Regions from separate parts of the Homo sapiens genome. Here regions 1 and 3 are each linked to region 2. The links come from fine-mapping of genetic effects on gene expression. A gene starts in region 2. Each other region holds a variant in brackets. All regions are shown on one strand. Distances are between the middles of the regions.

The links. PIP is the estimated chance that this variant, and not a neighbour inherited with it, causes the effect.
Region 1: its variant is fine-mapped to the expression of DR1 in whole blood (TOPMed, PIP 0.95).
Region 3: its variant is fine-mapped to the expression of DR1 in whole blood (TOPMed, PIP above 0.99).

Annotation. Positions count from the first base shown.
Region 1 is chr1:93,229,794-93,240,450 of GRCh38, reverse strand. It overlaps CCDC18 (coiled-coil domain containing 18), which reads right to left. Exons shown (of 29, transcript NM_001378204.1): 18 at 7,858-8,025; 19 at 4,061-4,203; 20 at 978-1,141; 21 at 555-768. Among named protein-coding and RNA genes, the nearest start is that of CCDC18, 54 kb to the right of the region's middle. The variant G/A (reference allele first, on the strand shown) is at 5,929.
Region 2 is chr1:93,340,047-93,350,703 of GRCh38, reverse strand. It overlaps DR1 (down-regulator of transcription 1), which reads right to left and starts at 4,797. Exons shown (of 3, transcript NM_001938.3): 1 at 3,839-4,797. The coding sequence starts at 4,058. It overlaps CCDC18-AS1 (CCDC18 antisense RNA 1), which reads left to right and starts at 4,893. Exons shown (of 9, transcript NR_034089.1): 1 at 4,893-4,980; 2 at 10,194-10,246. RefSeq lists enhancers at 3,958-4,167, 4,228-4,297, 4,667-5,202.
Region 3 is chr1:93,394,746-93,405,402 of GRCh38, reverse strand. No RefSeq gene overlaps it. Among named protein-coding and RNA genes, the nearest start is that of FNBP1L, 48 kb to the left of the region's middle. The variant C/G (reference allele first, on the strand shown) is at 4,850.

The DNA of each region.
Region 1 (10,657 bases), 110 kb after region 2:
TGTGTGTCAGCATAACAGTTTATGTTATACTGCTAATCTAAGATCCCAGACTTTAGAGTTGGACAGACTTGTGTTTAACTCCCTTCTCTAGACTCTACTACCTGTATGACTTGGGGCATTTTATTTTTCTCAAGGCCTCAGGTTTCTCAACTATTAAAAAGGTGATATATGTTTCTAATAGGTGTGTTGTAAGGAAATGAGTGAGATCATATGTGAAGTCCCTGGCGTAGTCCTAGCATAAAATAAGGACTTAATACAAAGAACAATATTATCATTATTAATATCCTCCTGCTGTTAGCCACTGCTGTATGCATGCCCAATGATTTTTTACCACTAGGGCTAGTATAAAATGGTCTAAAGACTGAGGATGAAAGTTTTGGCGGCCAACAAAGACAGCTGAATTAGTTAGATAAGGCATGGGATAGGCTGGCTGGGATGAGCCAAAGTGAGCCAAAGACAGTTGAGAAATTTAGACGTCTAGAATGCAACAACATATTTTATTGTATTATCCAAGGACTTATAACTGTGATATAATTTCTTATTATTTAACTCACCTAAGTTCAGCTGTGAGATCCTTTATAGTAGTGTATTTTTCCTCTAATGATAATTGAGCCTTCTGTAGTACATCTCTCAATTCCTGGAGTTGTCTTAAAGTACTTTTTAATTCTCCATGAGCATTTTGTAGTTCAGTCTCAAGTACTTCCCGTTTTTGCAAGGCTTCTGTTAGTTCAGTTTCAGTACTGTGCTGTAACTTTTCTAACTCCTTTACTATTAAGAGGAGAGAATAATTTTATAACTATATGTAAACCATTTATTACAAACTTTGTATATATTAAGAATATTCAATTATATTCATCTACGAGAGGCAAAATACCACTTATTTTCCCTTCCAGCCCCACCATCTCAAATTCTCACATTATTTCACTTCGTTAAGTACAAATACATAGGCAGCTATACTCATCTAACCACTTGCTTACCAGCATTTGTTTTCTTTTCTAGCTCTGTCTTTGTCTGATCTAAGATCATATCTAATTGAGAGAGGTGCATTGCTTTATTTTCTCCATCTCGTTTTAGGTGCATTATTTCCTTTTCCATTTTAGACAGCTCTTCTTTGTACTGATCCATCTCAATCTTTACTTGCCTAATTAAAAACAAATAATAAAACAGGTAATTTAGAAACTTAACCAACTAACTTGTCTCTGACTAAAAAAAAAGCCTGCAAGTTATATAAGGACAAATATCAGCAAAATATCTAGTTGGAATTTTAAATCACCTATTTTTAAAAATTCTCCAACTAAAAACTATTCCTTTACACATTACATACCACTAAATACAACTTTACTACTACTACCTGGTAATATTTAACAAGCCTAGCATTCTTTTCACTCTAACCACATTTAACTTTAGCTTTGCATGTATTGAAAATATCCAAGGACCTCATTCATCTAGGAATTTTTGTTATTAGCAACAAAGAAAATAAATAAGCCAAACAATCAAATTATTCACCATAAAAACCATATTACTCACTGGAGAGCCAAGTCAATTGCTTTTACTCAGTTTTATTATTGGTTCTATCCTTTTTTTAGCTTTAAAAGGAACTAGAGATTCCTAGACTAGTGCAACTTCCCTGCTTTACAGAGGAGGAAACTGAAGACTAGGTGAGTTGTCTGAGATAATACAACTAGCTGTTAATAGTGATAGGGCCAGGTTTACTAACTTTGTCAGTCCTGAACTTATTCTAATACGGCAGCTCCCCTACAGACAAATCAACATACTAAGAGCCAGTTTTAAGTCCCTTTGTTGGTAATTCTAAAGTGATATTTACTAATTAAACAATTGTTAATGTTACCCTCAATGGTAGGAAGAGTTCATGTTCCTTTGTGTCAACACTTTCTGTTGTTTGATCTTTGAAATTTCTAAATTGAGTTTGCAAGTAGGAGCATTTCTTTTCTAGATAAAACTTCAACAAATTTGGATTTGTTCAAGAGTTTTTTAATTGGAAGTCCATGAGTAAACTTAAGGAAAACTATAAAACCCCTGAAACAGTATGCAAAATTATACATGTATAATGTACATGTATACATCTATGTATAGAAGACAAGCTAAAGCTTTTTACCAGATCCTCAAATATGTCCATAGACCAATTAAGTACTAGATTAGATGAGTGCTAATGACACTTTTACATTTCTAAAATCCCAAGTAAATAATTTTTAGCTTGACCAATTAGCTCTAATATTAAAGTAGATATAAAACAGATAATTAGAAAAGAATAATCAAAAGAGATTGGCATAGAGCCATGAGCAGATGGCTTGTCAGCAAAGGAGTTAGGGGAAAATTATAGAAAATATACAAGGACTCAAAAAGCATTAGCAGCCTACAGACATTTTATAAAAAACAGAACTGTATATGCCTCAAAGTTTCATTAGGGTATCACTACATTTTAGCATGATGTATATAATGATAACCCTGAGATACCCAGAGAAAGTAAAAACCCCAAGAAAATATACATTTTAGAAAATTTCTACCAAAAAATGTTATTTGGTTTTGATTTAAATTTTCAGCACAAGATAAATTCCATGGGAGTAAGTGGCTGAGGTATGTTAAAGATCAGGATCACTAGAGTACAGAAATTGTTAAAAATGAGAAGCCAAGGTGTCAGAAGGATCAGCTTCAGAGGTGTACTGAAATCCCCAAGAAGAATGACAGAAGTGATGCTGGAGAGGGCAACAGTAAGTCAGGCCGTCTAAAGAAATCAGCACCAGTAAGGGTTCTGATGGCATGAGGTTCACCAAGTATAGTATATACTTCACACCTTGCCTGGACCCTGTGGTACAAGAGCTATGGGGAAAAGTTTTTTACTTTAGAAGGCTACAGGGGAAGAAGCAATGTCCTTAGGGGAGGGCCAGGTTTCTATTACAGCAAGAGAAAAGAAAAAGTAGTGAATACAGAGAATGGATTATGAAGTTCAAAAGGCACAGTAGAAGTCTTTCAGAAGTTGGGATGGGGTTGGAGAAAGAAACAGAATGTGTGGAGAGTTTTTTGGGAATTAGTGTGAGATATGAGAGCTGACCTGGAAATCTAGGGTTTCTTGTGGTATCTGGCATAAACAAGGATAAAGTGATAATGCAGTCAGTCTTCACAGACTCAAGGTGGACACCAGTGGTGAGGCCATGTTAGTGAGTAGAACATCTGTCAATGGAAGAAAGAAGGTGTGAAATACTTTGGTCTTAGTCTTAAACTTGGGAAGCCCTCAACCCTGCTGAGAGGGTGACAGACATCTGAGGAAGCAAGTTGCTCCTCTGAGCACAAAGGACCCCTGTCAATGGAGGAGAGGGAACCTGGGGACATGTGGTTTTAGTGCCAGTGCCTAAGTTCACTCTTGACTCCTGTTGGTAGAAGGGTGGGCTGATTATGTTATAAATTATGTCAATTCTTCCCAACAAAGTAGAAGAGATCTGAAGAGGCTGGGTACTGCTTTCAGCTCATGGGTTCCTTTCTTGACCAATTAAGTATCGATGCCTGGGACCAGCCTAGCCAAATTAAATCAGAATCTTTAGGTTTTATTTAATCTAAAAGTGGGACCCAGTCATCAGTATGTTTTTTTACAAGCTCTTGAGGTGATTTTAATATTCACTCAAGGCTGAGAACCACTTTTATATTGTCATTCTTCCCCTATATAATTGGATTGCCTGAAAGTTTCCTCTATGTGAGTACATTTACATTTTTGCCTACAACTTTTAATGTTATTCACAATTAACAGTTGCTGAGTGCCTATGAGGTATAAGGAACTGTGCCAGTTGTTGTGTAAGACCCTAAAATAAACCAGGTATGATCCTTGCCTTAAGAAACTTATAGTAGGAAGGTTAAAAGCATTAAACTGTAATACAGTAAAAAGCATAATGAGAGATATGAAGGAAATACAAACAAAATGCAATAGGAACACAGACTATGGAGACATTAATTCCTCAAGCAAATGCTCCACTGAACATTATCTGATTTCAAAACTCAGATACCACTGATATTGAAGTGGGAAGGTAAATAAAACATATTCACATTTTACCTGGCAGTGCCAGTAAGCTCAATCACTTTTTGCCTTTTCAAATCTGCTTCATGTGCAGCTGATTCACATTTCTCCTCCATTTTTCTCAACTTTTCAGCTGAACTTTCCCTTTGTTTTTGAAGTTCTTGTTCCAGTTTTGACACCTTGTAAAGCAGTTTTCAGTAAACATTTTAAATTCAGAAGAAAAATACTTTTATAAATATGTAACCTAGCTTATCAGTTTCAAGATGTATCATAAAAATCAACATATAGACCAAGAAGTAATGTTTGGAAAATATAAAAAGCAAGGCTTACTTTCTAATAATAAAGATACTTCACATACATATTACTATTTAGGGAAGTGGCCACATCATAACACTAAAGTGTTAAAATAATTGAACAAAATGATAGTAAATATTCCCCTTTTCATTGTCCCCATTTGAAATGCCCTTTCTTCTCTTACCATACTGCTCCTTTCTTTTCTTCACGAATTGGCTCACTCAATAGATTCCTAGATTTCCACATGACCTCAAATGCTAATTTGCATTTGCTCCCATCTTAACTTGAATCTGTTCCTATTCATTCTTCCTCTATTCTACTACAATAAAGGAGGTATTCTTCCTCCTTTATATAAATCAAACTGCTTCATAGGTGTTGTGGATTCAATTCCTATTCATTTTTTCAGGAACTTCATACTACTATCTCCTCTTTCCAATATCTTCAGTCTCTCTACTGTTTTTTTAATATTAGCATTTAAACATGTTAAAAGACTTTCCCACTGTAAAAAGCTTTTCTTCAGACCTTGACCTCCCTCTACCTACTACCCTTTATTTCCTCCCATATATAGCCCAACTTCTCAAAGTTTTCTATGCATGTTGTATCACTGTCTCACTTCTCATTCTTCAACCCATAGCCAGAGGCCATTCCACAGAAACAGGGATTACAACACCAGTGACTTCCAAGTTGCTAATTCCAATGGACATTTCCCAACCTTCATTTTACTTGACACTGATTCCAGTAGCCCATGACAGCAACATTCATTCCTTCCTTAATGAAATACTTACTTTGGCTTCCATGTATCACATCCCTCAGGGATCTGTCCAAGTCAATCTTCTTGCTTCTCATTCTATATTCTCTCCCTAGGTAATTTCAGTCACTCCATGTCTTCATGAATATTTATATGACTGTGGTCTCAAAGTTAACCTCTCAACTCTGACCTGCATATCCCCCGTTCTTCTAAAATCCCTCACTGAAGAACTAAATATAGATCATAAACCATTAATATCTTGCCAGGTGCGGTGGTTCACACCTATAATCCCAGCACTTTGGGAGGCCAAGGAGGGTGGATTTCTTAAGCCCAAGAGTTCGAGACCAGCCTGGGCAACATGGTGAAACTCTGTCTCTACCAAAAAAAAAAAAAAGAAAAAAAAAGAAAAGCCACACACACACACACACACACACACACACACACACACTCTTAGCTGGGCATGGTGGTATGCACTTGGAAGGCAGAAGTGGGAAAATCACCTGAGCCCAGGGAAGTTGAGGCTGCACTGAGCCATGATCATGTCACTGCACTCCAGCCTGGGTGACAAAGTAAGACCCGGTCTCAAAACAAAACAAAACAAGAAAACCCCATTAATATCCACCCCTCCACCTCAAGTTTCAAGAAGAAAATTAAAACAGTACCCAGGTAAAAAGGGAAAGGAACCAAGGAAAATCCACCTACTCAATTCTTAATTAAATAGAGAAATCTGAAGATGCAAAATGGAACCTATGCACAGTGTAATATGAATGAAAGGCAGAAAAGGAATACCAAGTCAAAAATTTACTCCAAATACTGAAGAAATTTTTAGATATAAACTTCTGTAGACCTCAGTGAAGCTAAT[G/A]AGAACACAAAATCTTTTAAAACAAGATCACAAAGAAAATCACCAAATAAAAAATACAAATGAGGCCAGGCGCAGTGGCTCACGCCTGTAATCCCAGCACTTTGGGAGGCTGAGGTGGGCGAATCACAAGATCAAGAGATCAAGACCATCCTGGCCAACATGGTGAAACCCCGCCTCTACTAAAAAAACAAAAATTAGCTGGATGTGGTGGTGCGCACCTGTAGTCCCAGCTACTCGGGAGGCTGAGGCAGGAGAATCACTTGAACCTGGGAGACAGAGGTTGCAGTGAGCCAAGATCGCACCACTGCACTCCAGCCTGGCGACACAGTGAGACTACGTCTCAAAAAGAGAAAAAAAAGAAAAAAAAGTGAACTTGTTAAAAAAAAACAAAACAAAACAGAAAAAACCATACAACCATTATAGAAGTGAGTTAGGAACAAGAATCATAATCAATCCTGCAAGAACCAGAGTCAATGACAAAGGATGTAGGCAGTGGGAATCAAACATAGATGAGAAGAAGAAATGCTTCAGGATGAAGCTGTATAGTAGGCATAGCAAGCAGTAGGTCTAAATTTTAACAAAAGGGATGGAGAGTCACAGGAAGATGTCTCTTGAAAAAAAATAGAGGCCAGGAGCAGTGGCTCACGCCTGTAATCCCAGCACTTTGGGAGGCCCAAGTGGGTGGATCACCAGAGAAGGGAGTTTGAGACGAGCCTGACCAACATGGAGAAACCCTGTCTCTACTAAAAATACAAAATTAGCTGGGTGTGGTGGCACATGCCTGTAATCCCAGCTACTCAGGTCGCTGAGGTGGGAGAATCGCTTGAACCCGGGAGGCGGAGGTTGCAGTGAGCTGAGATCGCGCCATTGCACTCCAGCCTGGGTGACAAGAGTGAAACTCCGTCTCAAAAAAAAAATACAGAATACCTGCCTGATGTGTTTAAATGTAGTGAGAGGAAGATACTTTAGTTCCACTGGACAGGCTGAGGAGGACTTCAGAACAAGTAGATAAAAGACCGAAAAAATGACAAAAAAGGAAAATACAGTAAGATTACAGGGGACGATCATTTTCTAATTTACACATTACTGTAAATTTGATTTCTTTTCAAAGAAAAAACAAAATAAGAATGTAAAATATCTAAAGAATTCAGATAAATTCAGTAATGAATTAAAGGAAAAAGATTAGATTCTAGTATAAAATTCTCTAGAATTCTTACATTCAAGTAAGTAATAATTTTTAATTTTAGAACTTTCAGGGGTATTTTCCCTTGGGATTTTTCTTTTAGTGCACTGCTTTGCCATTTCTTTAAGGAATATCACATACCATGTCCTGATCCAAAAAGGAAAAATTATAGGTATTCAGATTAGGTACAAGAAGAGAGATTGAATAAAGAAACATGAATTATAAATTGTATGGAACAGCAAACATATAATCATGGTATAAGAGATGGAGGTCAGATTACATAGGAATAGAACTTTATTTTACAATATCAGTATAGAGTATTTCTTATAATGCAAAATCCTTGAGGTTTAACAGCAATTTTTTTTTTTTTAGGCGGAGTCTCACTCTGTCGCCCAGGCTGGAGTGCAAGGGCACGATTGCAGCTCACTGCAACCTCCACCTCTTGGGTTCAAGCAATTCTTGTGTCTCAGCCTCCTCAGTAGCTGGGGTTACAGGCATGTGCCACAATGCCTGGCTAAGTTTTGTATTTTTAGTAGAGACGAGGTTTGGCCATGTTGGCCAGGCTCGTCTCGAACTCCTGACCTCAGGTGATCCGCCTGCCTCAGCCTCCCAAAGTGCTGGAATTATGGGCACGAGCCACGGCATCTGGCCAAACAGCAATTTAAAAAACTAACGAAAAATCTATTCATGATTTTAAAAATTTCTATTTCATACAAATAAAACAATCTTGGGCTAATAATATATACCTGTTTTTCAAGTTTAGTTTGAGTATCTTCTAGCTCTCCATTTCTAATTGTCTCTTGTTGTAACATTTGCTGCTGTTGCTGAAGAGTATGCTGTAGAATAACGTTTTGCTCAGAAGTCTCTTGAAGACTGTGATTTTTTATCTTTAGCTCTTTCTGTAAACAATATACCTGGCAAATATATATATATATCTCTCAATACAATGCAATGTTTCAAATAAATGGCAATAAAATGTCAAAGCTGTCCTCCTTATTAGATAACCATCCACTTGTCATGTGGGACAATTGCATTCATGTCTATAGTTTGTCATTGGAAGGACAGTATTCATTTTTCTAATGGGGAGATGTACTGGAAGGGCTTGCTTATAGGATTGCTCTTGGTTGGTGTCTGGAAATGTGGCTTTAAAAATGTTCCTAAGTGATGAGGTTGTTTTGCCTGGCTGGGGCACTGAAACATGCCTTCCTTTAGAATTCTGGAATTTTTGATACTTGTAGGCTGGTCATTGTTCCTGTGTGACAAGCCCCCAATAAAAACCCTGAACTTTGAGTCATAAATAGGCTTCCCTAGGCAGAAACAGATATTGCCACATTTTACTGCTATAAAAAGGAGCATGTTCTGTCTGACCTCTCCCAGAAGGAGGGAACAGCATAGGCAGCCATGGTTTTATCTGCACTTCACCTGATTCTTTCACCCTTTCTAATAATAAACTAGAGCCATAAAAGCACTATATGATGTTTGGTGCTATTTATTGTTATTGTTGCTATTATTGCTGTTGTTTATATAATAATATCCCAGCAAAGCACTGCTGAATATTTATGCTACAAAAAAACACATAAAGGAATGACAATAACAACTAAGAAATTTCACTAATTACTCTATATATTTAGGACTTGAATATGATGGTCTCCAAAATTGCTTTAAGATACTTTTATCCAAGAGCACCTATTAAGAAGAAAAATAAATTCCCTTTGTCCTAGTAATCCAAATTCTAAAAATATGCCAGCAGAAATTATTTTTAAAATACTATCAACAATGAAACATAATTTAAAATATATTTTATAATATTCTTCATCTCCTACCAAAGTGAATGGAAGATTTAATAAGTGATGATTGTCAATGTGATTTAAAATGTGCAACCATTTAAAATAATTAAAAAGACAGCTAACATAAAAATTTATAAAGTTAAAAAATCACATTTCATTAATATAATTTTGAAAAATATACATGCAAACAGAAAAATGAAAACTGAAGTATTAGAGAATGGGCTGTAGGTAAATGTTCTTTAGAAGTTTTCTTGTTGTTGCTTATATAATAAATTTTTTAAGTGAAGGAAAATAAAGCCATTCCTTTAAAGCAAAGAATCTTTCCAGTAAATATCATTCCAAAAGGAAATTTAAACTCCTTATAGTAAATAGCGGAAGAGAATCACGACTTGCTTCTTTTTTCTAACTATCCAGCAGGTGAACATTAAGGCCTTCAGGGCCAAATATTCTTTGCTCATTATGAGAAGCTCTGAGATTTCAGATTTCTTAATTATATGATGATGTTGTATACTCGAAGTAACCCTGGATATCACAGGCAACTAACTGATCTCTAATCCTGAATTATAATCCCTTTTCATGCAAATATGTTTTGTTTAATTCTGTCTGCATGAAAATAATTTAGTGTAAATATGTGTCAGTATCACCTGTTTTGTTTTCTCTCTTAGCTCCTGACCAAACCTGCAGATCACACTTCTGCACTGGTTTATTTTAGATAGAACTGACTTGCCTGCAAGACAGGTTTAAATACTCTTTTTTTCTTTATTGGAACATCCTGTTTCATACTTACCTATTCAGAGAAAAAAATGGACAAAATATTAAAATAAGACAAAACAGAAGAAAAAAATAAGATCTAACCAAAACACAAAGCCTTACCACATAATAACAACAAAATTTTATTTCAGTAATCTAGTCACTGACATTTCAATTACATATATTGAAATAGCTAAAATTAGTTATCACAAATATTTACAAAATAGAACATATATCTATCAAACTTACACTGACATTTCATTGTACTGACCTTTAACTCCAGTCGGCTTTAGTTTTTTGTTTTTTTTTTTGAGATGGAGTCTTCCTTTGCCACCCAGGCTGGAGTGCAGTGATGCGATCTCGGCTCACTGCAAGCTCCGCCTCCCAGGTTCACGCCATTCTCCTGCCTCAGCCTCCCAAGTAGCTGGGACTACAGGCGCCCACCACCACGCCCGGCTAATTTTTTTTTTTTTAATTTTAATAGAGATGGGGTTTCACCGTGTTAGATCTCCTGACCTTGTGATCTGCCTGCCTCAGCCTCCCAAAGTGTTGGGATTACAGGCATGAGCCACCGTGCCTGGCCAGTTGGCTTTAGTTTAAAAGTAAATACAGAACAAATTGTTTTTACATCATATTTTCTACTAATGTATTATTATATTCCCAGAGTACTTAATATTTTATAATTGAAGTAAATAAGAAAGTAGAATTTAGATGATAAAATCTACCTTACACTTAACTTTATCTAGTATCACTATGTACCCAAAGCAGAAAGTCTCATAATTGTTGCTTAAAAATAAAATATAATGCAGAAATATGATGCCAGCTTCTCAAAATCTAAGTCCATCCATTTAAATGAAGATATTTATCAATGAAACGACTGATTTTATTGAATAAAATCTTTATGCAGAAAACATTTAGGCTTAGTCGCATCTACTTTGTATTGAGTTTCTTTTATCATGTTGACAATGTAATTTTGCATGAACACATAACTTTATTATTTTAAAAGCAT
Region 2 (10,657 bases):
ACATTTTTCAGCTTAAAAGACAGATGTTAACAAGACAGCTATTAAAAAAACAAAAAAGAAGTAAAAATTTCTTTGAAGCAACAATAATCTTCATATAGGCTTATCTTATTTTACAAAGTGATGTACTCCTGAAAGGTTCTGTCATAACATGAATTTATGTGACTCACTTTATACTTCATATGCATAAAACATGTTTTTCATTTGTAAAATTACGTGATATACAGTACCTTTTAAATACTATATAAATCAGCATTCTCTAATTTCTCCATTTTCTTTTGTTTGTGGGAAGGAAGCAACTAATGTATTTCACATAAAATACATTAAGAGGATGTAGGCCAAAGTGACTTCTTGGCTCATTAGCCTGGCAAAGGTTTCTGAAACCCCTTAAGAACCATGTCCTCCATGGTATCACTACTGGAAATCTTGGACAACAATGAGAGACTAATGGCAGAGAAGGAATTGAGTATCATTTATCTTAATATCCTTAGTAGTACCTAGCATGATGCCAAATAATTGGTAGTATTCAATAAGTAATTGTGGGGTGGCAGAAGGAAAACAGAAATAAAAGATATATTAATTTAAAGAAAAGTATTAATAAAATCCTAACTTGAAAAGCATTTGATTATGTGATAAATTTTGCAGTGCAAATTAGATGTGTCCCTTCGGAAAAAATATCTGTATAAACGATTATTTACTACTTACGTCCACTTTCCAACAGAGACTGGTTTAGGCTTTAGAGCAAAGGTTCTCAAACTGTGGTCCATGGACTTATGCCAAAACTGCTCCTAATGGTTAACATTAGTTAAGTATGGAAATTCAAAGCATTTAAGTACCTTCATTGCAATTTGACAAAATAATTTTATGTCTATTGAATCAAATAGTAAAAAATTGAGTGTTGGTCTTTCCCTCATCTTTTCCAGTGATCTATTTTCATGTTATCTTACAAAGCTACTAGTGTGAGAAGGACAGGAATTTTTTAAAAATTCCTTCAACGTAAGACAGCTTGGAGCAACTCAACAGCTGAAGACGCAAATTCTCAGATACTCTTTCAAACTTTTACTACTTTCAGTTACAATTCTCATAAATGTGAGGGGAGATATTTCATGTAAGGTTCTCAACCCCTGACTAATTCTCAAAAATTACAAGTAATACCTGAAATCAAGTATTATTTGTACACAAATAAGAAAACCTTAGTTAAAAGATTTCCCTAAGGTTAAAGAATTCTCAGTGCGGAACTTACAGCTGACTCTCAATGTCAATTCTTTCTATAAGGCAACAGAACATGTTAGAACTCATTCAAGAATACGTGTTCACAAAAAACTGCAACAAAATAGGAACACCTTTTATAGCTTAGAACTCCCTCTATTCATGTATCTATGGTCTTCAATACCAAGTCTACTTTCTTAAACTCAAAATAAGCAAAACAGAAAAAAAAATTTTTTTAAATAAGTTATTTCATAGATATACTGGTGATAAAATTAGTTCAACTTTAACTTGCATTTTACAGAACTATCTCAGAATGCTTAATTTGCTCAGACAAGATAAAGCAAGGTGAGAAATGAACAAGTGAAATGTCCTGAAGCAAAGTCTAATTCATTAAACTTATCACTAAAAACCCAAACTTCAACATGTGAGAATCATATCACTTTAAAATGTACATTACTTATTCCATTTGGATATATTCTACATTCCTAATCAATGCTGACAGAAAAGTATAAAAATGTCCTATTATGATTAGTGTATAGGCACACACTTCAAACACCTAAAACATATAAACCTTAAGAATTTCTTTAAAAATGTAATCTCTCAAAACAAAACTTCTTTGGAATAATTAAGCAATATGAGATTATAAATGTATAAAGTCTACAACCCCAACTAGGGAGAATTCTTGGGCGAAAATGTAGATTCTTAACCACTTTTAAGAATAGCATAATACAAGAAAAAAAGGTAAATTTTTAAATTTAAGGTAACACGTCAATACATGATTTTTAAAAACAAATCATCTTCATTACACAATGGAAATGCTTTTTCACTATAGCTTTCTGACTCACACATTAAACTGAATTTAGCATATTCCAAAGTTGAATTATTTAGCATACTGCTTGCTACAGCTGCACTTCTATTCCATCATGTCAATCAGAAATCTAAATATATCCTAGAAAAGAATCAACTCTCCCCAAGAAGACAGACTGTAATGTGTTATTAGGTTTTTGGAACGATCCCCACTTCTGTAGTGTAAACAAATGTTTAGGCAGACCCTGCTGAAATCTTTTGCAATTTTCATTAGAAAGGCAATGTTGATAAAGGTTCTTTTTCCTTTTTAAGAGTTGTAAAAAGAAATTATAGCTATCTGTGCTGGATAATCTTGTGAAAGACTTATGACAGCAATCACACATACAATGTAAAAATAAATACACAAGGGAAAAAATAGACAACTTGGCTTTCATTTTACTTGCTAGAGTATTCAGCACACCAAACAAGTAGAAAAAAAAAAAACTAGTACTAGTTTTAAGAATCAAATATGCTTTTTCCTAGGGATTTTTCTGCTTGTGTACTGAAATGGCAGGATATATTTTAAAACTACTTTCAAGACGTCATAAAGGATTAAAAATGAATCATTTAATCCTTTTGTCAATACTGAGAGTAAAATATTGGATATGGTCAATATAAGCAGATGTGTTCTCTACTTCAGTACAACAGGAAAGTCACATTTTAAAAAGTTAAATTATAAAAATTAAGTGATAGACAACCACCTGCCTATCAAAATGATTAAAATTAATCATTTTTCCCTGATTTCACAAGCAATCAATAACTTTAATTAGATTATTACAAAAGGCAAGTTCTCACCTCAAATTGAGTACAACTCTTTCACAAGAGTACATGTAAAAATATCGCAAAAGGTACGTTCCCGAAACATTATGAATAGTAAATATGTTTCTCCTCTCTGAAACCACCAGAATACAGTCCCCCAAATCCCTATTACGGGACCAAATCCTTTCCAGGATAAAAGAAACTGTTGAAGTTTTCAGAAGTGCTGTTCCATAAAAGCCTAAGTGTATACATTCAAATAGGAATGACAGCAGGAAAGGACGGGGAAATTTTCCGTTAAAAAAAAAACTTGCATAAACTTTCAATCAAAGATTTCAAAACTTATCTCCACAGAATAGAACAAAGCAAACGACATAAAAGCAAACGAAAAGAAAAAAACGAAAATTTAAAGTTCACCCTATTCTTACAGAATGGAACAGGAGTTATTTGGTAACTCATTCATGAACGTACCATCAAACCATTTTTAGAGCAGAAAACATACACCTTTTATTTAACAACGATAAACTTGACAACGTTGAACACATTGTATGTTAAGAATTTTTTAACTCATGTGTTCAGAAAATAAATCTTTTCCTCTACATTGGTGAAAGGTCAGGTGGGGAAGGGGGTGCTCTGTCTCCACCCACGTTGAAGTTCCTCCGTCTGAATTTTAACTTTCCAAAGGAGAATTTCTGCGTTCCTTAATTATTATCTAAGTTCAACTTCAGGCAAGTAATTCTTGTTGCTTCGGCTTACCTGGCTGTAAAGTGAGATCACTCTTATTCTTTACGTTTTGGGGACGCTGACCTAAATGTTTGCACTCCTTACATGTATTCGCTGGATGAAAAGTACTGCAAAAATGCTACAAAGGGATTGTTTTTAAAGCACCGGCTGCCTACATGCCAGTCTGGCTTTTTCATTAAGTTACTTACCAGGGAAGAGGAATGGAGGCTTTGACACGAAAGGGTCACGCGATTAGCAGACTGCTACCCTAGAACCTCATTCAAACCAGCTCTCACACACGACTTACCTTGTATGACATGCTCTGGTGAGATGGTCTTCTTTTCCGATTTGTTACAAATCTCATTGGCTTCAGAAGATATAAGGTGAATGAATTCAGTGCAGCAGTTCACCACCAGCTCTCGAGCATCGTTGGCCACCCGGACATTAGGAAGAGTCTCTTTGATCATTTTATTGATAGCAGCTCTGGGGATAGTGAGATCATCATCGTTGCCAGACGAGGAAGCCATAGTACCTTCCTGTTTCTCGCGCCCCGGCTTTTAAAAACTCCCCAGCTCTGGTCCACTACTCCACCGAGATTTCTCAAAAAGTCGCCCTCGGAGAGTGATCCCGGGGGGTGCTTTGCGAAGAGGGTGCAGAAAATGAACGGAGGAGCAGCTGGCTTGAGGGCTGGGAACACTCGCGTGTGTGAGAGATTTAGGATGAGTTTGGGAAGAAAGTGGGGGCCCGAGGATTCTAGAGAGAGCACAGCCCAGGCTGAGGAGGGGAAAGCGCGGTGGTCCGGAAATTTGAGCGGCTGGGGAACCACCTTCGTGTCTCCTCAGAGGGGCGGGCGCTGTCGCCTAACTGGTCCCCAACGGCGTCGGAGCAGAGGCAAGATCCAGGGGCACTGGCCTCGCCGCGGTACCGGGCGGGTACCCAGCGGGCTCGGCTCTATAGAGCCCGAGGCCCCGCTGCCGCTGCCGCCGCCGCCAGCAGCCGTTGCCGCCGCCTCGGCCAAACCATCCTTCAGACACCCGCGCCGCCGCCTCACAACATGTCCGCCGCTGCCGCTGCCGCTGCCGCTGCTGGAACGGCGACGGCCGCCTGGGAACTAATATGGACAGAGCCAGGCACAGTGGGAGTCGCAGTGGCTGCCGCCGTGGCCGCGTAGCCCGAACGCAGATCGTGGAAGCCGAAGACGCGGCAACGGTGGTCCCTCCAGATGCCAGGGAAGGTTTGCAGGAAGCCGCTCCCGACACCCTTTGCGCCACCGGAAGCCTCGTTCCCTCAGATTTCCCCCTCCCTCCCGGACCGACTTCCGGGTGTGGCTGCCGCCCTTCCCCCACCCACGCCGGCGGGAGCCGCCCGTTCGCGCTGCCAGCAGCTTCCGCCTGCTACGGTCCTGGCAAGCACCTCGGGATCCCATTCCTTCACAGGGACCCTAGCCAGGCAAGCGCGCGCCTCACTGTACCGGAGAGCTCCAAGCACGCGCTTGGTCTGGGGCCCGGACGCTACATCTGGGAAGGGGTGGGTGGCTGGGTAGATAGGCGAGGAAGGATCGTCTCTACCCTCTCTCAAGTAGCTGAGGCCTCCGAAACCTTCCCTAGCTGGATTTGGGGACAGAGGAGCGCTGGTATTGATAAAATAACTCTCTTTGCTATTCCTTTAGGAGCCCAAATGAGGATTGAAAGTGAGAAGAATGGGACCTGGGCTTGGGGGTGGGAGGTGGGGAAAGCAGAACCCCGTGTGCCTGTTTCTGCGTCGTCTGGAGAAAAAGCTTTTCAAGATGTCTGATAGACCTTATTCGGTTCAAAGCTCTCTAAAGTCCTTCACCTTTTTTTTTTTAAACTTCATGAAAAATGAAACATTTCAGAGAAGTTACTTGCCTAGAGGCAACTAAGTCGCCTAATGGCTAAGTAGGAAAGCAGAAGTCAGTTCCAACATAGTGGAAATGGAGTGGAAATGCATGGCATACAATGAGCTATATTAGAAGGTTCCCATTTAGACAGTTTTCATGTTGTATTCCATGTTGGCTTCTACAGGGGAAAAAAGTGTTAGAGCATCTTAAGCAACTGTTTTTACTTCTTTCCATAGTGACTAGTAATATCAACAGGTGTCAAGGTCTAAACAGAAATTGCATTTAAAAAAAAAAAAAGTGTGTCAGCCAGGCGTTGTGGCTCATCATACCTGTAAACCCAACACTTTGGGAGGCTGAGGCAGGGGGATCACATGAGCCCAGGAGTTCAAGACCCGCCTGGGCAACATAGTGAGACCCGTCCCTACAAAAAAAAAAAATATATATATATATATATATAATATATATTTATATATATAAATATATATTCCAACATCCCACTGTTTATAGTATAGCCTCTTCTATATGACAATATGAAACACGGGTTTTTTTTTCACCAGGCTTGGTGGCAGGCACCCGTAGTCCCGGCTACTCTGGAGGGCGAGGTGGGAGGATCGATTGAGCCAGGGGGTCAAGGCTGCAGTGAGTTGCGGTTGTGCCACTGCACTTCCAGCCTGGGTGACAGAACAAGATTCTTTGTCTCAAAAAAGATAAAAAAAAAAAAAAAGTAAAAAAACTGAGTCTGTCATACTGTCATGTGGAAGAAGAGGCTATACTATAAATAGTGGGATGTTGGAATTTCTAAAAACTAAACAAGACACTGTTGAAATCCATTTTGTCACTTTGGTTCATCAGATTCATTACTCTTGATACATATGATGGCAACTGGCTTGTTGACAGTGTTTTCTTAAAACGTTCTGTCTGAGCCCTATATGCTGCTCTCAAGAAGACATTACAGTTTATTATGCTATTTTTTCATTTAGCATTTTCTGCAGGACAACTTACTGGTTCTTTAATTTCTGAAGTGTAGACACTTGTTTTTCAGTGCTACTAAATTTAGTCAAAACAAAATTTCTTTGATTAAAAACAGTATTTTAATTAAATTTTCTTCAGGCTGGGCATGGTGGCTCATGCTTGTAATACCAGCACTTTTGAGAGGCCAAGGGGGGCGGATCACTTAAGCTCAGGAGTTCGAGACCAGCCTGGCCAACATGGTGAAACCTCACCTCTTCTAAAAATACAAAAATTAGCTGGGTGTGGTGGTGGGCACCTGTAATCCCAGTTACTTGGGAGGCTGAGACAGGAGAATCGCTTGAACTCTGGAGGCAAAACTTGTAGTGAGCCAAGATCGTACCACTACACTCCAGCCTGGGAGACAGAGCACGACTCTATCTCAAAAAAAAAAAAATACTTTATGAAGTGGTGGGTTTGTTTTTTTTTGTCAGTTTACTGTTGATTTAAAGATTTATTATGGTGCCTAAATTTATCTTGACCTTAACAAGTTTATCCGTCTGAAAAAGCTGGCTGGCAAAAAATGTCCCAAGTTGTCACAGTGTCACTGACCCTTATCTTGTCTCTCCTGAAAAAACTATAACTTTGCTTTTTCATGTAACATTTATGTTTATAGACTTATGCTAAATAGACGAGTAGAGCACACATTATTTCAGTAATAGTTTATTGCTACAGGCTTCTGTGGTAGCATAAACAGAATTGAATGTGTAGTAAGAGTTGTAGGTTCCAGTCCCAGCTTTTTTTTTTACTTAGACAAGTCACTCTCCAAGCCTCATTTTCTTCAGTTCAGATATAGAAATATTATGTAACACACAGGATTCAAAATCAAATGAGAGTTGTGTGAAAGTACTTTTTATAGTATGAAGTGTTATATAATGTTAGTGTCTTTTATCATCTTTATCAGGCTTGGTCAGTCTTCAACTAGTAATGAACCATGTAACTAGTTTATTACATACGTGGCTGAGAGAAATTTAATTGGATATAAATACCAGTGTGATATGTCATAAAATATGCTAATCTGTAGCCCATATTTAAATAGTTATTTATAGTACACTACATGTATCTGTATTATAAATAGGCTTTTAAGGACAAAGAGAACATCTCCTTATTAAGCTTTAAGAGTTTCAGAGAGAATGCATATATATGAAACTTTTTTTTTTCATGTTGTCTAGGTGTGGTAGTGCACACCTGTGATCCTACCTACTTGGGAGGCTGAGGTGGCAGGATCACTTGAGCCCAGGAGGCTGAGGCTGCAGTGAGCCATGACACTACTACACTCCAGCCTAGGTGACAGAGTGAGACCCTGCCTCAAGAAAAGGAAAAAAAAAGTTTAGCCTCAGAGTAGGGTTAGGGGAGTGTCACTGTCAAAAACAGTGGAGTTGAAAGGGAGCTGTTTAGAGAAGATGTGCTTGCTTTTGCACATGTTTGGGCAGGCATTTGTAGAAGTGGTGTCCTATAGAAAGTGGAAAGAGAAGACAGCATCTGATTTCTACATTCATTCAATAACTGTCTAGTGTCCTGACTATGATGTGGGAGAAATAAAGATGAATATAACTCCCACCTTGTTCTTGAAGACCCTATAATCTGGTGGGAGAAGCAGAATATAAACCAGATTCAAATAAATATTGTGATAAAATATACAGGCTAAGAATGCATGGGAAGAAGTGATTAACACACTAGTTGTGGAGTACAAAGGGTTTTATGGAGGACTGGATATTTTAACTGCACCTTGAAGATTGAGTACAATTTTGATAGGGAAGGAAAGAGCATGTAGCTGAAGAAAAAACACAAAAGTACATTGTATGGCTTGGGGAAATAAAGTAGTCTAGAGTGGCTCTATTAATAAGGTTTGTAAAGAGGTGTAGTGGTATATGATGCAGGAAAAGTAGGTTAGGGCAAAAAGAAAACAGATCAGTGCCTGATATGAATTATACACTGGGCCAAAAGTTTTTCATATTTGCTATTTCATTTAATTTCCATATAGCCATGCAAAATAGGTGTTTTGACATGGGGGGAAAACAGTCTCAGAGAGTTTTACTAATTTGTTCAAAGTCTCACAGATAATAAGTAATGGAGCTGAAATTTCAAACCAGGTTGTTACTTAACTCCAAAGCTGAAGCTATTTGTAATTTGGTAACTATCTCTAAATTAAAAAAAAAAAGGAAAAAAGGTTATATTCATTATAGGACTTTAAAAATATAAAGCACTTTCACATGTATTTGGTCTTTATAACTAGTCATTAATCCCAATTGATGGATGGGAAAATTGAAGCCCAGTGAGATTATTCAAGGTCACAGAGTGAATAAGTGGCAGATTGGAAATGCAACCCAAGCTTTCTGACTACAAAGTCTCAAGTCTTTCCACATCATTTTAAGAAGTCTGGAGATCCTTTTGTAAGCAGTGGAAAGAGTTAGTGAACATTTTTGAGAAGGGGGATGACATAAACAATAATGTTTAAAAAGATTAGTTTGAGTTCGCATGTGAGATGGTCTGGAATGGACAGAGACAAGAACATTAATTATTAAGCTATTGTAAAAATAGTAATGATGTAGACCTGAACAAAGAAAGTTTGGTGATAATAAGATAAAAGAAACAAATTAGAGGCATTTGGAAACAGAATTTACAGGATTTAGCTTCTGCCTGCATCTACCGTGAGATACGAGGACCGTGCCTAAATAATAATGGAGGTGGGGACAATGATGGTAAGAAGAGGTAGATTTGGATGGAGAGAAAGAAATAGCTATCCAAATGGATGTATCCAGTGAGAGTTGGACAGCGGAGATGTGGGATCATATAGTAGGGCTATGTAACAAGTCCCTCTATAGCAGGGTTTGTTTAAGCTAGACTGTAAGTACCCAGAGCCAGTGAGGGTCTGGTTTATTTCTGCATCCCCAGAGCCAGGACAGTCCTTGGCACTCAATAAATATTTGTTAACTTTGAAACTGGATAAAGACCTTTAAGGATGGTAGAATTTTTTGAAAAATGTTCAAAGACAGAAAGCAAAAAGAAGAAAATATTTGAGGAAAGATTTGATAGAAACCAAGAAGCATTATGTAAAGGAAGTCGTGGGGAGAGAGTTACAAGAGTGTGAGATGCCACAGAGAGGCATTGTTGGAAGGGGATCAAAGATAGTGTTACTGAAGTAAAAGTTCAGGAAGAGAGATCGGAAGTCAACATGCAAAGAACTGAAGAGGAATGGGGGGAGAACTAGAGCCAGGCAGCAGAGAGTACTCTTTCAAAAAGTTTGGTGGTGAAGGAAAAGGGAGCAATGAGAAAACACCTTAAGGAAGAAGCAGGGTCAAGGAGGAATTGCAAAGGCACATGTAGCTCAAGGGAAAGGAGCCAGAGAAGAGAAGCAGATTGAAAATACAAGCAAAATGAAGCTCAAAGAAATGGAGGAGGATGAGATTGAAAAGACACAGATGGAGTGATCAGGATTAGGTATACAGATCTGAGCATGTTTCACAGAAAGGACAAGTTGAAGCCAAATTATAGGTGAGTGATTATAGACAGTGATTGCAAAGGGAGAAGAGCAGAAGACTAAGGAAATATTTAGAGAATGACCACAGGCAAGGGCAAAGGAGGGGTCAAAGAAACAGCAAGAGAAGTTGTGTAAATTCATTGTCACAAAAACAGATACACAACCAACCAAGTTTGAGAAAAAGAAGTAGCCCAAAGTGTCAAGCGTTGCAGAGGAGGATGAGAACTGGGAATAAATGGTATATATCCAGTATATTTGTACAAACAGTTCATGAACAAACACCTTAGAATTTTTTTTTTTTTTTGGTCTTTTCAGTTAAAGCTGATACATTCCTGTGGGTCAACTATGCAACTAACTCAGATTTTGAGGTGAATAGCAAATCTCTTTATCTATAGATGATAAGTTTAAATTGTGATGCAAATAAATTTTTCTTTCAAATGGTGTGAATGTTGAATCTAATTCAGTCCTGCTAATTTTGTTTAAAAAGCATTTGAAGCAGATGGAACTGGAAAGCCTACTTCTGTAAATTCCATTTACTCATTCATGCATTGCTTTCATTCAAGAAATGTTTATTAGTGTCTACCATATACTTTGCTAGTTACTGGGGTTATGAGGGGATATGGCAATAAACAAGAAAGACAATGTCTATTGCCTGAAGAAGTAATACCAAAAGAAGAAAAAACTATTTGCTGTATTGTTGGTAATAGAAAAATATTAATTTAACTTTTAAAAACAATTGAAACAATGATTAATTATAGTAAATCTATTTGAATAACTTA
Region 3 (10,657 bases), 55 kb before region 2:
CACACTTATTCCAAAATTGACCACATAGTTGGAAGTAAAGCACTCCTCAGCAAATATAAAATAACAGAAATTATAACAAACTGTCTCTCAGACCACAGTGCAATCAAACTAGAACTGAGGATTAAGAAACTCACTCAAAACCACTCAACTACATGGAAACTGAACAACCTGCTCCTGAATGACTACTGGGTACATAACGAAATGAAGGCAGAAATAAAGATGTTCTTTGAAACCAACAAGAACAAAGATACAACATACCAGAATCTCTGGGACACATTCAAAGCAGTGTGGAGAGGGAAATTTATAGCACTAAATGCCCACAAGAGAAAGCAGGAAAGATCTAAAACTGACACCCTGACATCACAATTAAAAGAGCTAGAGAAGCAAGAGCAAACACATTCAAAAGCTAGCAGAAGGCAAGAAATAACTAAGATCACAGCAGAACTGAAGGAAATAGAGACACAAAAAACCCTTCAAAAAATCAATGAATCCAGGAGCTGGTTTTTTGAAAAGATCAACAAAATGGATAGAGCGCTAGCAACACTAATAAAGAAGAAAAGAGAGAAGAATCAAACAGATGCAATAAAAAATGATAAAGGGGATATCACCACCGATCCCACAGAAATACAAACTACCATTGGAGAACACTGTAAACACCTCTACGCAAATAAACTAGAAAATCTAGAAGATTTGGATAAATTCCTCGACACATACACCCTCCCAAGACTAAACCAGGAAGAAGTAGAATCTCTGAATAGACCAATAACAGTCTCTGAAATTAAGGCAATAATTAATAGCTTATGAACCAAAAAAAGTCCAGGACCAGATGGATTCACAGCCAAATTCTATCAGAGGTACAAGGAGGAGCTGGTACCATTCCTTCTGAAACTATTCCAATCAATAGAAAAAGGGGGAATCCTCCCTAACTCATTTTATGAGTCCAGCATCATCCTGATACCAAAGCCTGGCAGAGACACAACAAAAAAAGAGAATTTTAGACCAATATCCTTGATGAACATTGATGCAAAAATCCTCAATAAAATACTGGCAAACTGAATCCAGCAGGACATCAAAAAGCTTATCCACCATGAACAAGTGGGCTTCATCCCTGGGATGCAAGGCTGATTCAACATATGCAAATCAATAAACATAATCCAGCATATAAACAGAACCAATGACAAAAACCATATGATTATCTCAATAGATGCAGAAAAGGCCTTTGACAAAATTCAACAACGCTTCATGCTAAAAACTCTCAATAAATTAGGTATTGATGGGACTTATTTCAAAATAATAAGAGCTATCTATGACAAACCCACAGCCAATATCATACTGAATGGGCAAAAACTGGAAGCATTCCCTTTGAAAACTGGCACAAGAAAGGGATGCCCTCTCTCACCACTCCTATTCAACATAATGCTGGAAGTTCTGGCCGGGGCAATCAGGCAGGAGAAAGAAATAAAGGGTATTCAATTAGGAAAAGAGGAAGTCAAATTGTCCCTGTTTACAGATGACATGATTGTATATCTAGAAAACCCCATTGTCTCAGCCCAAAATCTCCTTAAGCTGATAGGCAACTTCAGTAAAGTCTCAGGATACAAAATCAATGTGCAAAAATCACAAGCATTCTTATACACCAATAACAGACAAACAGAGAGCCAAATCATGAGTGAACTCCCATTCACAATTGCTACAAAGAGAATAAAATACCTAGGAACCCAACTTACAAGGGATGTGGAGGACCTCTTCAAGAAGAACTACAAACCACTGCTCAAGGAAATAAAAGAGGATACAAACAAATGGAAGAACATTCCATGCTCATCAGTAGGAAGAATCAACATTGTGAAAATGGCCACACTGCCCCAGGTAATTTATAGGTTCAATGCCATCCCCATCAAGCTACCAATGACTTTCTTCACAGAATTGGAAAAAACTACTTTAAAGTTCATATGGAACCAAAAAAGAGCCTGCATTGCCAAGTCAATCCTAAGCCAAAAGAACAAAGTTGGAGGCATCACGCTACCTGACTTCAAACTATACTACAAGGCTACAGTAACCAAAATGCATGGTACTGGTACCAAAACAGAGATATAGACCAATGGAGCAGAACAGAGCCCTCAGAAATAATGCCGCATATCTACAACCATCTGATCTTTGACAAACCTGACAAAAACAAGCAATGGGGAAAGGATTCCCTATTTAATAAATGGTGCTGGGAAAACTGGCTAGCCATATGTAGAAAGCTGAAACTGGATCCCTTCCTTACACCTTATACAAAAATTAATTCAAGATGGATTAAAGACTTAAATATTAGACCTAAAACCATAAAAACCTAGAAGAAAGCCTAGGCAATACCATTCAGGACATAGGCATGGGCAAGGACTTCATGTCTAAAACACCAAAAGCAATGGCAACAAAAGCCAAAATAGACAAATGGGATCTAATTAAACTAAAGAGCTTCTGCACAGCAAAAGAAACTACCATCAGAGTGAACAGGCAACCTACAGAATAGGAGAAGATTTTTGCAATCTACTCATCTGACAAAGGGCTAATATCCAGAATCTACAATGAACTCCAACAAGTTTACAAGAAAAAAACAACCCCATCAAAAAGTGGGCAAAGGATATGAACAGACACTTGTCAAAAGAAGACATTTATGCAGCCAAAAGACACATGAAAAAATGCTCATCATCACTGGCCATCAGAGAAATGCAAATCAAAACCACAATGAGATATCATCTCACACCAAATAGAATGGCGATCATTAAAAAGTCAGGAAACAACAGGTGCTGGAGAGGATGTGGAGAAATAGGAACACTTTTACACTGTTGGTGGGACTGTAAACTAGTTCAACCATTCTGGAAGTCAGTGTGGCGATTCCTCAGGGATCTGGAACTAGAAATACCATTTGACCCAGCCATCCCATTACTGGGTATATACCCAAAGGATTATAAATCATGCTGCTATAAAGACACATGCACACATATGTTTATTGCGGCACTATTCACAATAGCAAAGACTTGGAACCAACCCAAATGTCCATCAGTGATAGACTGGATTAAGAAAATGTGGCATATATACACCATGGAATACTATGCAGCCATAAAAATGATGAGTTCATATCTTTTGTAGGGACATGGATGAAGCTGGAAACCATCATTCTCAGCAAACTATCACAAGCACAAAAAACCAAACACCGCATATTCTCACTCATAGGTGGGAATTGAACAATGAGAACACATGGACACAGGAAGGGGAACATCGCACACTGGGTCCTGTTGTGGGGGGGGGGAAGGGAGGAGGGATAAGATTTGGAGATATACCTAATGTTAAATGATGAGTTACTAGGTGCAGCACACCAGCATGGCACATGTATACATATGTAACTAACCTGCACGTTGTGCACATGTACCCTAAAACTTAAAGTATAATAAAAAAAAGAAAAAAAAAGAAAAAGTAGGTCACATCTTGAATGCTTTGCTGCTTAGAAATTCCTTCTTCCAGATACCCTAAATCATCTCTCTCAAGTTCAAAGTTCCACAGATCTCTAGGGCAGGGGTAAAATGCTGCCAGTCCCTGTGCTAAAGCATAGCAAGAGTCACCTTTATTCCAGTTCCCAACAAGTTCCTCGTCTCCATCTGAGACCACCTCAGCCTGAACTTCATTGTCCATATCACTATCAGCATGTTGGTCAAAGCCATTCAACAAGTTTCTAGGAAGTTCCAAACTTTCACACATTTTCCTGTCTTCTTCTGAGCCCTGCAAACTATTCCAACCTCTGTTCATTACCCAGTTCCAAAGTCACTTCCACAGTTTTGGATATCCTTATAGCAGTGTCCCACTACCTCAGTATCAATTTACTGTGTTAGTCTGTTCTCACACTGCTATGAAGAAATACCTGAGACTGGGTAATTTATAAAGAAGAGAGGTTTAATTGACTCACAGTTTTGCATGCCTGGGGAGTCCTCAGGAAATTTTCAATCATGGTGGAAGGCGAAGGAGAAGCAGGGACTTTCTTCAAAGGGCAGCAGGATGGAGTGAGTGCAAGTAGGGGAAATGCCAGATGCTTATAAAACCATCAGATCTCGTGAGACTCACTCACTATCATGAGAACAGCATGTAGGAAACTGCCCCCATGATCTAATTACCTCTGCCTGGTCCTGCCCTTGACACATAGGGAGTATGGGGATTACAATTCAAGATGAGATTTTGGGTAGGGACAAAGCCAAACCATACGGCACAAGACATTAATCAATACATGTAAGATTTACTTTGGCTTGATCTGGAAGGATGGGACAACTCAAAGCAGGGGCTTCCAGGTCATAGGTAGATTTAAGCATATTCTGATTGGCAATTGGCAATTGGTAGCAGGCTTCAGAGAAAATAGATTGTAAATGTTTCTTATCAGACTTAAGGTCTGTGTTGATGTTAATGCTGGAGAGGTATAATAAGGTATGTCCAACCCCTCCCACCCTTCCTGTCAGTCATGGCCCCAACCAGTCTTTCAGGTTAAATTTTAGAGTGTCCTGGCCAAGGAGGCAGTCCATTCAGATGGTTGAAGGGAGGCCTTTGAATTTTATTTTTGGTTTACGTTCTGAAAGGACTGGGAACCCCAAGACACATAAGCTATCAAGCAGCACACTCTTTGTTCAGAATGTGCCAAGCTCTCAGGGGAGTTTGTCTCTTTTTTTTTTTTTTAAGAGACAGGGTCTCACTCTCTCACCCAGGCTGGAGTGCAGTGGTGCAAAATAGCTCGCTGCATCCTCAAACTCCTGGGCTCAAGGGATCCTCTTGCCTCAGCCCAGTGGCTGGGACTACAGGTGTGTACCACCATGCCTGGCTAATTTCT[C/G]TCTCTTTTTTTTGTTTAGGGGAGTGGGAGATGTTGCCCAAGCTGATCACGAACTCCTGGCCTCAAGGGATCCTCTTGCCTTGCTTCCCAAAGTGTTGGGATTATAGGTGTGAGCCACCACACTCGGCCAGGGAAGTTTGTCTTCATAAGAAGTCTTAACCATAAGGGACTTTTGTTGCCTCGTTAGTTCTGGGAAAGTCTAATCCAAAGAGAACCTACCTGTTGTCACCAATTAAAGGATCTGTGACTGGTAGTCCCCTATAAATTTGTGGGTTATTGAAGTGTAGAGGCTAAAGCAATTCCATTTTGAATGCTTATCCACAATGTTGACTTCTGATTCCCTGTTCTGAGAATACCTCTAAGATTTCTACTTTACTGTTACTGTAAATTCTGCCCTTAGGTCAAATAACCTTGACTTTAAATCCTGCCCTTTGGCAGATTCACATAGCATTCTTGCCTTTCCCTGGGTGTTGACTTCACTTGTCCTACACATTCCTCCCCTGTGGTATGTAAACCCTGGGCCTGGGAGGGTAAATGGTGCAGGGATCCACTATCTTGTCTTGCCATCAAACAAGACACAGAGATGGCTTCTCTTTGTTAATTCCCTATTAAATCTTTCTTCCTGAAAAACTGGATTGTCAGCCTGTTTCTTCAGCCTCTCAGCTTCCTTAAACTTTGGGGGTAGATTTGCATAGACTTGCTCCCTGCAGAACATGAAGGAACAGTGCACACAAACACCATTCTTTACCATCTGTGACAAGAGGTTTTTGCTATTTTGGCCTATTTCTGGGAGTGAATTTGGGGAAATCATGGGAATTAGCTGTTCTATGCCCTCTCCAGGGATACGCTTGCTTATGTGGTAAAAACTTATTCCAAACCTGGAAAATTACCTGCTGGTCTATCCATGAAGAGGTTTATTGAATTGAGTTGCTATTGAAATAAATACATAGTTGGAAATTCTAATCGTTAGTGGCCAGAAGATGGATCCTTTGGACTAGAAAGACTCCTATATCTGAAAAATATTTTACTCCATTCTAAGTAATTGCCTTATTTGTTTTTGTGGGAGGATCAAATTGAAAGAAAGACACATATTAGTGTCATGACTAGCCTTAGAAATTCTCCTTAAAAAAAAAAGCAGAAATCAGATTTAAAACAAAGTTAAAATCCTTTGTACACTAAAACTGCCTGCTTTGGATTCCCCACAGGATTTAAAAAGGAGACATTTCAACTTGTAGTCTAGTCTTATATTCCTAGATGTAGGCCAAGCTAACTTTGGGAAGAACTTAGTTTATAGTTTAATCTTAAAGCAAAGATGATAATAACCCCTTCCCCAAGCTAACCCACCTTTGCAGAACTAATGAAAGGCCATAAGGTTAGGATTATGAGTGGGGTCTGAATGCTGATAAGATGTAGATATAGTTTCTATAATCCCTTACTTCTCAGGAGTCAAGTGGCCAGAGGTCACAAGATTTGTGACCTCTCCAATTGCTCCTATAGATCACATCACTATTGTAGAACCTGACATTGGTGTTTTGAGATTTTTTTCAGACTGTCTTGCAACTAACTGACCCCATCTGGACCCATGACTCATAACTCAACTGGTCCTGTGGCCCCTATCCAAGGTGGAGTTGGCACATGTGGACCATTTTCCATACCCCTATGATTTCATCCCCACCCAATCTGCAGCACCCATTCCCTATCCCCCTGTCCACCAAATTGTCCAAAACGTTGGCTTCCCGGAGACTTGTTATCCCATTTACTTTTATTCTTCCTTCCTTTTTTGCCACCTTTGATACCACACGAAGAGATCTAGAGGGGACTCTTAGCAACTATGACACTCCTTAAGGAAGACCAAAAAGGTGCCTCTGACCACATTTTGGGGTCTCCTGTCTTCTTCATGAAGCACCAAAAGTCATGAGAAGGTTCTTCTCAGGTGTAAAACCCTAACTCCTGAGCCTTCGTGGAGACTGATTTGAGTGATAACTCCAGTTCTTCCACATGGCTGACCTTACATCAATTAAACTCTTTCTCTATTGCAATGCCATGCTCTAAATGAATTGATTCTGTCTGTAGAGCAGGCAGGAAGAACTCATTGGGTGATTACAGGTTTGATATTTGTGTGTAACTCTTGACTTTTGGAGTACCCATTTATTACTGTTCTTGTTCCCTTCCATGGACAGCTTTTAGTTTCCTGTCTTACTAATTGTTTGTCTATTTTAATCTTCCCTCTATGGGGCATGCAATTGCTGAGACTTTATGTGAAGATGGTTAGTTGATAAGCCAAGACCCTAAAGAACATGGTTGGTCAGAAATGTATATTGTACCCCATTTGCAACTAGTAAATTTTTTTTCCTTGAGCTGTCTTTGGGGTAGTTCTGGTTCTTGTGAGAACTGCTTTGCACCTTTTTGGAGATGCCTTATGCATCCTTGGTTAAGTCATAAAAGGCTTATAGGTTTTGGTTGGAGTCACTTGGAAGATAACTTTGATTTAAAGAAGTTCAAAACCAAGAATATTGGCTGTTTGTCATGGCTAAACTCTGACAGATTTTAAAAGATTGTTTTTAAAAAGCTTTATGTGGTCAGAAGCCAGCTTAATTAAAAACTGATATTCAAACTAAAAGTTTTTTTAAGGCCTTTCTGCTTTTTCTCTTTTGGATCTTGTTTCTCCCATGAGAATTTTTTTCAGTTTACTGAAACTCTTTATAAAAAGTTATATGTTTGGGCTGGACATGGTGGCTTATGCCTGTAATCCCAACATTTTGGGAGGCTGAGACAGATCATTTAAGCCCAGGAGTTCAAGGCCAGCTTGGGCAACATATGGAGAACTCATGTCTACAAAAAAAAAAAAAAAATTACCTGAGTATGGTGGCATGCACCTGTGGTCCCACCTACTTGGGAGCCTGAGATGAGAGGGTCACTCGAGCCTGGGAGGTCGAGGCTGCAGTGAGCCATGATGGTGCCAATGCACTCCAGCCTGGGTGACAGAGTGAGACCCTGTCTCAAAATTGTATGTGTGCGTGTGTGTTTATGTACATATACATACACATGTGTGTGCGTATATATATATGTGAGTGTGTAAAATATGTTTCATCCCTCTGTTTGCTTCCTTTCCTGTTGGTATAATTTTTTGCTTAGAAAAAGGTAAAACTTCACTGACTTTTTTTGAGAAGTTTTAAATCTCCCCAAATTGGCTTCCCTGAGACTTATTATCCCATTTACTTTTATTCTTCCTTCCTTTACCACCTTTGATACCACACGAAGAGATCTAGAGGGGAACCCTAGCAACTATGACACTCCTTAAGGAAGACCAAAAAGGTGCCTCTGACCACATTTTGGGGTCTTCTGTCTTCTTCATGAAGCACCAAAAGTCATGAGCAGGTTCTTCTCAGGTCTAAAGCTCTGCTCTCATTTGCACTGAGCTCCCTGACAGCTTTGGCTTTGAGGGTACCAGAAGTTACTTTGTACTGTGAGAGAATACCTGATCCTTGAGTATGCAATGGCTGGCTCTACATTCAGTGGCTGCAGTCACTGGTGAGGGCTGCAGTTTTGGAGGTGGCTGACAGTGGTTGCAATGAATAGGTATTACACAGAGGCTACTTTTTTTTATTTTTATTTTTTGCATGGCTAGATTTTTTTTTTTTTTTTTTTTTTTAATGAGACAGAATCTCGCTCTTTCGCCCAGGCCGGACTGCAGTGGCGCTATCTCGGCTCACTGCAAGTTCCGCCTCCTGGGTTCACTCCATTCTCCTGCCTCAGCCTCCCGAGCAGCTGGGACTACAGGTGCCCGCCACCACGCCCAGCTAATTTTTTGTATTTTTAGTAGAGATGGGGTTTCACCGTGTTAGCCAGGATGGTCTCCATCTCCTGATCTCGTGATCCGCCCTCCTCGGGCTCCCAAAGTGCTTGCATGGCTAGATTTTTTAAAAAGTACATTTTGGAAACTTGGAGGCTGTAGGAACACTCACCACCAAAGGATAAGACTCCTATGGGGGATAGGCTGATCACAGAGTGGGCTGGAGTCCTACCAGCCTTGGGGGACTTTTATTGAGTCACCCACCAGCCTTGGGGAACTTTCCTTCTAGTGAGATACACTGTAGAAGATTGCACGACCTGTTTCCATGACCTTTCTCTCTTGGACTTTTGCCTCCACTCTGAGAAACTGGAATTCAGTGTGAAAATGGGGTCATAAATTTCTAGGATCTAGGTGCTCTGCCTTCCAGCTGTGTCTGCTTTTCACAAATACCAGTATTAGGCCCAGGAAACTGTAAGCATTTTGTTGGCATTATTCATTAATGGGCTTCACCCTGAGCTGAGTGGTCCAATTGGAAAATGGAGACTAAATTGAAAACTACCTAACTAAAATTGATCTCCTTATAAAATCCTGTGGTGAATTCCTATAATTTTGTGTTACCTAGGCATCTATTTTTAATCTTTCTCTAACACACCCTGACTTCTTCTTCAGAAAGCTTAAATTCTCTTTGTGCTGTGAGATATAAATGTGCTACACTGTTTTCTCTAAAAAAAAACAAAACAAAACAAAAAACAAAACAAAAAAAACCCTTATAAGGGCTTTGAATATGTGGGACAGATAAACTTTAACTCGTTCCATTTACAATGACAGAGTTTGAATTCAACTGCCCTTTATGTGAGTTTTACCTGTCTTATTGCTAAAATTTTTAAATCAATGCTATAAAATCTTTACTTATGTTTGTCTGTATTTTATGCATACATGTGTACATGGCTGCCTTTTTATATTATCTACATGGTACCAAATTGACTTTTAAATAAATGAGTGTTCATAAATTAAATAATCAGCCAAAATGCTTTTCAAGTTCATGTCAATTTAGTAATATCTGGCAAAGAAAAACTAGTTTTTAAATTGTCGGCAAGGCCAAGTGCAGTGGTTCACGCCTGTAATCCCAGCACTTTGGAAGGCCAAGGCAGCAGGACTGCTTGAGCTCAGGAGTTCGAGACAAGCCTGGGCAACACAGGGAGGCCTTGTCTTTACAAAAAGTAAGAAACAAAAATTAGCTGGGTATGGAAGCACATGCCTGTAGTCCCAGCTACTTGGGGAGCTGAGGTGGGAGGATTGCTTGAGTCTAGGAGGTGAGGTTTCAGTGAGCCATGATTGGGCAACAGAGCAAGACCTCATCTCTGCAAAAAAAAAAGTATAAATTAGCCAAGCACAGTGGAATGTGCCTGTAGTCCTAGCTATTCAGGAGGTTGTAAGGTGGAAAGATTGCTTGAGCTCAAGAGATCAAGGTTACAGTGAGCTATAATCATACCACTGTACTCCAGCCTGAGTGATAGAGTGAGACTCTTGTCTCTAAAAAAATTAAAATAAATAAAATTTGCTTTTCTCTTTTGAAAAAGATTTTTGCGTAGTATTAATGAGTAAAAAAAAAAATTGTTGCTCATTTTTCGTAAATTGCAAAAAAGTGGGCACACAGTAAGAGAAGGACAGATAGACTCTGTTTGCCTCCAGCTGTCTTTATTAGGCCTTTTGATAGTTTAGAAAACTGAGTCCCCTCTCTAACATAAAGAAAAGATTTTTGCTTTTTGAATTATTTTAATTATCAGTTTTGCTAAATGAATGACCTATGATCCTATTTCTGTTCCAGTGTTTTAAATCTTTGACATATTTGACAGGCTTTCTAAAATCAAATTTCAAATTCTAAATTAAGTCTTTTTGACTTCAAGCTAACTTTTGGACACTCCAGAAGGGTCCCTGGAAGTACAAGAGAGACATATTAGGCTTATTTGGTATGTTAAAATCATGCAGGAAGGATTGTGAAATAAGAAATAATG